Homo sapiens: one gene and its partner. The protein of the gene in region 1 purifies or fractionates together with the protein of each later gene. This does not show direct contact. Each region holds a gene or a part of one and is shown in the gene's direction. Other genes may lie near its edges.

Region 1 (3,748 bases):
GGCTGGAGTGCAGTGGCACAATCTCAGCTCCCTGCAACCTTCACCTCCCAGGTTCACCTCCCGCCTGTAATCCCAGCATTTTGGGAGGCCAAGGCGGGTGGATCACCTGAGGTCAGGAGTTCAAGACCAGCCCGGCCAACATGGTGAAACCCCATCTCTACTAAAAAAAAATACAAAATTAGCGAAGCTAATTCGTGGCAGGTGCCTGTAATCCCAGCTACTCAGGAGGCTGAGGCAGGAGAATCGCTTGAACCCGGGAAGGCAGAGGTTGCAGTGAGCCAAGATCGCGCCATTGCACTCCAGCCTGGGCTACAAGAGCGAAACTCCGTCTCAAAATAATAATAATAATAATAATAATAATAATAATAATAATAATAACAAGAGCGAAACTCCGTCTCAAAATAATAATAATAATAATAATAATAATAATAAACCACATCACACCCACCACAAACCAGCTGTCAGTGTGAAAATAAAGCCAAATAGCTTAACATTTCTAAAGACTAGCTGGGGCTAGGCATGATGGGTCAGGCCTGGAATCTCAGCACTTAGGGAGGCCAAGGCGAGAGGATCACTTGAGGTCAGGAGTTCAAGACCAGCCTGGCCAACATGGTGAAACCCTGTCTCTGCTAAAAATACAAAAATAAGCCAGGTGTTGTGGCGGGCTCCTGTAATCCTGTAATCTACTTGGGAGGCTGAGGTGGGTGAATCGCTTGAACCCAGGAGGCGGAGGTTGCATGAACTGAGATCGTGCACTCCAGCCTAGGCAACGGAGCAAGACTGTCTAAAACAAAGACTAGCTGGAGAATCCTGCCAGGAAAAGGCCCTCAGACTCCAACTGCTCTGCTCACTCGAAGCTGGAAGATGCGGCTCTAGAGACGCATCAGGACCAAGCCACGACTCCCCACTTGGAGAAATCAACGCGGAAAGAGACGGAGGCAAAGGAGAACCATCGCACTGGGAGAGGCGACGCTGTTTGACACATCGTCCCTGTACCTCCCAAAGCCACTGCCCTCCCACACCTGGGCAACAGTGGCCCCAACCCCAGGCCCAGCCCTCCTGCAGGAAGGAAGAGGACTGAATGGAGGGCGTGGCAGACTGAAAGGACGTGGCCTCCTCAAACCCCTTGGTAAAGGGCCTCTGGGGCCACCTGGCAGGGAGGGGCTGGCACACCAGGAAGTAGCCTCCTCCCGGGAGTTCAGCTAGAGCCCAGGTCCTGTCCCCAAGTGGCCTCCAGAGCCACCTTTTCTGAAAAAAGTACATCCTGCCCACCCCTGTTCCCCCTGCTTAAGGCCCCGCGTCCTCCCTGAGCCTCCTGCTGGCCTCTCACCTAGAAGCGGGGGTAGTCCTCGGCCCTCCAGCCAGGGGGTGCAGACCTGGATGTGCTGGAAATGCTTCTGGTGGATGAGGCGGCTGTAATACTCCCTCAGAGGCCCTTTGCCTTCACAGAGAAAAGCAGACACTGCCATGGACCCGTCTCTCTCCGTGCCACGTGGCCCCAGGCCCAAGACACTCCCCCTAGGAGGGATCCTTTTCCCAGAAGCTCCACCCCTCGGCAGCTCCAGTCAGGCCCCATCCGGGCCCTTCCAGAAGCAACCCAGGAGCCCCGAGACCTGCAGGGATGTGTGCACCCTGACCCCTGACGCATAGCCCTGCACCTGCAGCCAGCTGGCCTCGGGCTTGAAAACATGGCGGGGTAAGCACTGGCCTGGCACCCGACCGCCCACTGGGTGGACCCAGCCTTCTGTCTGTGTTGTGCGCAGGGGACACGAGGACTCCCGCTGCCCTGACACAGCCCCCAGATCACATGGCGCAGGTTCCAAGCCGCCCCTGCCCTGCCACAGCCCCCAGAGCACACGGCGCAGGTTCCAAACCACTCCTGGGAGCCTAGAGGCCAAAGGAGGGAGGAGAGCAGGACCAGCAGCTGGCCCAGACCCCGCCTCTTCCCACACCGCTTCTGCTTTTCCCCCTCCTCACTGAGTCATCTTGAAAGGGCTCAGCAGCAGTAACTGAGGGACAGGGGCTCTTCCGTTTGAAAAATTAAAAGAGGCTTGGTTAAGGCAACAATGACATGACCGGGCACAATGGCTCATATCAATAATTCCAGCATATTGGGAGGCCAAGGCAGGTGGATCACCTGAGGTCAGGAGTTCAAGACCAGCCTGGCCAACATGGTGAAACCCTGTTTCTACTAAAAATACCAAAATAAGCTGGGTGTAGTGGGCACCTGTAGTCCCAGCTACTCGGGAGGCTGAGGCATGAGAATTGCTTGACTGTGAGACGCGGAGGTTGCAGTGAGCTGAGATCACACCACTGCACCCCAGCCTGGGCGACAGAGACTGTGTCTCAAAAAAAAAAAAAAAAAAAAAAAAAGACATCAATGAAGAAACAAGAAAAAAAAAAAGATGCTTGGAAACTACTGAAAAATTAGAAAGCTTGGTATGTACAGATTCACATCTGGGCTCCCTGCCCTGCTGTGAAACCCTCTGAGCTTCAGTTTCCCACATGTAAAGCAGTATAAGACCCTATGGCAGAGAGCTGCAGTGGGGATTAAGGAGACAAGATCGTGGGAAGCACAAGGTAAAGGCGGCGTGCCCCTCCCTGGACTCCAATGCCTGGAGTCTCAAGACCAGCTGAAAAGGGAGCCAGGCACTGAAGGACAAAGCGGTGTTGACTTTCTTCATCTGTGTTTCCCAGTGCGCTCCAATTCACGGTGGTTTCCAAGCGCATTCTGGAGGAGAAAACACATGAGTGTGTGGTCAGGGTTCTCTGCTGACAGACCTACCGTGGGGAAGAAAGAGAAGCTCTGAAGATGGATCATGGCCGTGACTGCATGTCAAGGAGAATCTCCATGATGACACGGAGGCCTACGTCGAGATAGAGTAAATATGGTCCAATTAAAAGGTGTCTATTTTACCACATTTTTTAAAACAAAACAAAACACAAAAACAAAAAAGATGGAAAAGAAGACAGGGGTACAGGCACCAGTGTTACATATCTGACGGGGAACATCTATTCTTCAAAGCTTGCAGCTGTACACGTAGGTTTTAGAATGTCTGTCAGCAGTGGACATGATCTTAGAGTGGGCTGTGCAGATAGACCTTTCCGAGTCATGTAATTGGATTAAGTTAATTGTAATTAACCTACATGTAACTGATTAGGTTAGGGTACGTTCCACGTCAGGTGACCAGAGGCAGTATAAAAGGCAGCCTGGAAAGCAGAGGTCCCTCTCTGCCCCTTCCTCCGTCTTCCTGGATGCTGCATCGCTTCCAGCGGGGCTGCTCCAGCACCTGCCCATCTCAGCGCCAGCCGGGGAAAGAAAGTAGACGTGTAATTTCAGGTTAGTTTCACTGAACAGTTGTTTGTTTCACGCAATCCCTGAGGGGTGGGGGGGAAAAGAGACAAAGGAGGCCGAAAGAAAGCGATCACACTGGGGCTTGCTGATGCGGTAGGGTGTGCTCTCGTTACTAGTAATTCTTGGAACAGAAAACGAGAAAGCATTTCCGTCTCCATGTGTGGGATAAGACCAAGGTGGGAATGCGAAAAGAAATGTACTGCAGCATGCTGAATTGGTGGGTAAATGGAAAAAGGACTTTGGAAAAAAGGGTGGTTTGCCCTTCAGCCGTGTAAGACATTGATACGATATGGCACTTGTTCACCGTTCGTTTAGATGAATTCGTGTGGCATGCGTAAAATACCAGAAAAATAAATAAAGAGGGGCTGGAGCTAAAGCCAAAAAGATAGAACA
Region 2 (3,648 bases), on another chromosome or scaffold:
AATAGCAGTGTGGCTCTGTGACTGGTGATCCCTGAGTAGTGGGGACATTCTAACTGAAAGCTGAGACTTTGGTGAGCAAGGATCAAAGCAGAGAGGCAGAACCTGTACTCATGGCCCACTTCAGTCCTGCAACTGCCCTGCAGAGAGAAGTTGGGTGTTCAAGGAATTAAGTTGAGGGATGCCCTGGGACCTTGGATAACATCATTTGCTAAGTGTAAAATGCGATTTTTTTCCACATACTCATCTGGCCTCTGAGTAGTAAGTAAACAGAATACTCTGTGCTTGGGGACAGGGTTAATTTTATCTGACTCTTGGTAGTTCCTTGCAGTTGGAGTTTGAAGGTTAAGCTTCTCTCCTTGATGTGACACCTTGTGGGAGACTTGGTGAGAAAGAGGGCTGCAGGGATGCTGCAGATGGAGCAGAGAATGGTAAACACAGTTTTGCAGCTTGGTGCAGGATGGACCTAGGCTGTAGCGGGGCAGGTTTGGAAATTTGCAGCAGGAAACTGGAGCAGGTATGGGGCCTGTAGTGGCTCTCATCTGCTCTGGAGTTCTGTAGCTCTAATGGGGTCTTTCCAGGGATCTCTACTCTTTTCTTTCTTCCCTTGCCCCACAAACTTTTCTAAATCCAACCTGTTGTAGAATTAGTCAAGTGATTTGTTGAAATCAGTTAAGGCAGACATGGAGAGTTGTCCCTCTTCCTCTGTTGAGATGCTAAGCTATTTGTAGCAACTTTCTTAAAAGTTCTATAAATAACTTAGCATTTCCTAACAGAGAATAGGGATTTCTATCCACAAAGGCAAATAATATCCTGGTGAAAGAGGACGAAACAAGACCAACTGGTTTTAAATAGTGTTTAAATTGCCTGGTGCTGGCACCATTGACTGGGATCACTTGTAACATGTCTTTTATTTGGTTGTTAGCTTTCCACCAGCATGCTATCCCAGTTGCAAAGTGTACTCCATCGATGTCCCAGGGGCAGGTGAAGCTTTTGCAGTCTGTGGAATGGTCAGATGTTTGAGGCAGCTCAAATGCCGTGTTTGTGGGCTAAATGCAGACTTCCTTCCACTGATGGTTTCTATTTGGTCTATTTCTCTAGCTACCAAAATTTCTTATCCATTTTTTTTTTTTTTTTTTTTTTTAGACAAAGTCTCACTCTGTCACCCAGGCTGGAGTGCAGTGGCGCAATCTTGGCTCCCTGCAACCTCTGCCTCTGTTGTCCAGGCGATTCTCCTGCCTCAGCCTCTCAAATAGCAAATAGCTGGGATTACAGGCACCTGCCACCACACCTGGCTAATTTTTTGTATCTTTAGTAGAGATGGGGTTTCACCATGTTGGCCAGGCTGGTCTCAAACTCCTGACCTCAAGTAATCCACCCACTTCGGCCTCCCAAAGTGCAGAGATTACAGGTGTGAGCCACCGTGCCCGGCCAAAACAGGATTTTTTTTAAAAAGCACTGATTACTAAAGGGAACTCTTATTGTATTAAATCCTCAGAGTGAGATAATAACTGAATCTCTTCCGCAACTCCTTCTCAGTTGAATGGTGGGGGAAATTTAATGTGGTCCTGAGAGGCCCCAAATCATTTACCATCCCAGCTCTACCTTTGATGTGGCAGTCTCTCCTGGGATCATTTTCTGGGTGCAGATGCTCACAGGGCGCAGTTTGACTCCTTCTGCAGTTCTCTGTGCAGAACTAAGTTAAGCCTAAGTTTGGCCTTTGTCACTTGCAATGATAAGAGACCAGCTTTGGTCTATGGGGTGCAGGCTGGTGTCAGCACAGACTAGAGGCTTTGGGTTTGTTTAGAACAAACTGTAATTAACATAGGGCACAATATAGTCTTTCAGGAATTAGCTGTCTAAGAGGCTGGAGTGGAGCAGAGCCTCTGCTTCCAGGAACAATGCCCATTGGGGATGCTTGGGATGGTCTTTCAACAGAGGCCAATTGATTGACTGATGTACCTCTTGCCTTGAAGCTTGGCATGTATACAGGCACCACAGAAGAGAGACAATCCCTGCCAATCTCATTTGGGATCGGTAATTTGAAACAGGAGAAAGCAAAATGGGTAACCATCCAGTCTGTTTTATTTCTAAAAGAGGCCCAGTCTTTCAGGGGTAGGAGAAGGGAGCCTCTTGGGCTTGCAGAGTTGGGCAGCCTTAGCTGTCCATCCCTTAGTCTCATTCTGGAGAGATGTGGCCTCTGTTTAGTTACCTTTCACCCAGGTTCCTCCAGGATGGGTCCTTTAGGTTTACAAAGTAGAGCGCCTTAGCTTGACATTGTCTGATTTCCAGGCTTACACTAACACCCCTGTGTTTTGTTTTTTGCAGGTTGGGTGGCCCAGACCCCTTGGACTATGTTAGCATGTACAGGAATGTGGGGAGCCCTTCTGCTAACATCCCCGAGCACTGGCACTACATCAGCTTCGGCCTGAGTGATCTCTATGGTGACAACAGAGTCCATGAGTGAGTATATGCCACCTGTTCTTTATCCAGAGCCTTATTCCTGAGGTCTTCCTGAGCAGGGGTGACAATGTCATAGTGCTGTGAGCATGGTACTTCTCCGTGGAACCTCTGCATTTCTGCCCTCTGACTATATCTACTCATGCCAAGGTGGTCCTCGTTAACACCTGATTCCTGCTTATCTAGTGCAGGAAAGTCTTGATGAGCAGGATTCCCAAATCAGGTTTTTCTAAGCTTGCCCTGGAGTTTGGGCTCATAGGACAGGAAGGTAGCATGGTTATGACTCAGAACTTGGGCTGATGCCTCTGTGTCTACTTCCTTTTATTCCCCTAGCTTATTATGAAACATTTTAAACATAAAGCAAAGTTGGAAGGATTTTATAGTGAACACTCATATACCCACAACCCAGATTCTACTGTTAACTTTATACTTGCTTTATCACAAATCTGTTCATCTCTTATCCTTTATCTATCTTACCTACTTCCTTTTAACCTGTATTTATTTATTTTTTTATCTTAGTCTGCTTCCGTTTGTTGCCCTATATGCTTTTTTTTGGAGATAGGGTCTCACTCTGTCATCCAGGCTAGAGTGCAGTGGTATGATCATGGTTCACTGCAGCCTCGACCTCCCTAGGCTCAGGTGATCCTCCAACCTCAGCCTCCCGAGTAGCTGGGACGACAGGCAAGCACCACCATGCCCAGCTAATTTTTGTAATTTTTTTGTAGAGACAGGGTTTCACCATGTTGCCCAGGCTGGTCTCAAACTCCTGGGCTTAAGCAGTTCTTCCACCTCAGCTTCCCAAAGTGTCGGGATTATGGGTGTGAGCCACTGTGCCCAACTCAGAGTTCATACTGTTAATGACTGTATTCTCTTGCCTTTTGAGCAATTATATCATGTACTCCAATAAGCTACCAACTATTTTTTTTAGAAACAGAGTCTCGCTTTGTTGCCCAGGCTGGAGTGCAGTGGGGTGATCTTGGCTCACTGCAAGCTCCACCTGCCGGGTTCACGCCATTCTCCTGTCTCAGCCTCCTGAGTACCTGGGACTATAGGCACCCACCACCACGCCCAGCTAATTTTTGTATTTTTAGTAGAGACGGGGTTTCACCATGTTAGCCAGGATGGTCTTGATCTCCTGACCTCGTGATCTGCCTGCCTCGGCCTCCCAAAGTGCTGGGATTACAGGCGTGA

What was found. The genes of interacting proteins can lie anywhere in the genome.
Region 2: the proteins of FAM90A1 (region 1) and SUFU purify together in Homo sapiens (affinity purification with mass spectrometry; 4 studies listed by BioGRID and IntAct, with this or other methods). This does not show direct contact.

What each region holds. Positions count from the first base shown.
Region 1 is NC_000012.12:8,225,428-8,229,175, reverse strand, and holds the start of FAM90A1 (protein FAM90A1), read left to right. Parts: upstream 1-1,557; 5' UTR 1,558-1,696; intron 1,697-2,697; 5' UTR 2,698-2,904; intron 2,905-3,161; exon of another isoform or gene 3,162-3,183; 5' UTR 3,184-3,340; intron 3,341-3,748.
Region 2 is NC_000010.11:102,506,844-102,510,491, forward strand, and holds part of SUFU (suppressor of fused homolog), read left to right. Parts: intron 1-1,435; exon of another isoform or gene 1,436-2,063; intron 2,064-2,325; coding exon 2,326-2,460; intron 2,461-3,648. UniProt on the Homo sapiens protein: Negative regulator in the hedgehog/smoothened signaling pathway. Down-regulates GLI1-mediated transactivation of target genes. Down-regulates GLI2-mediated transactivation of target genes. Part of a corepressor complex that acts on DNA-bound GLI1.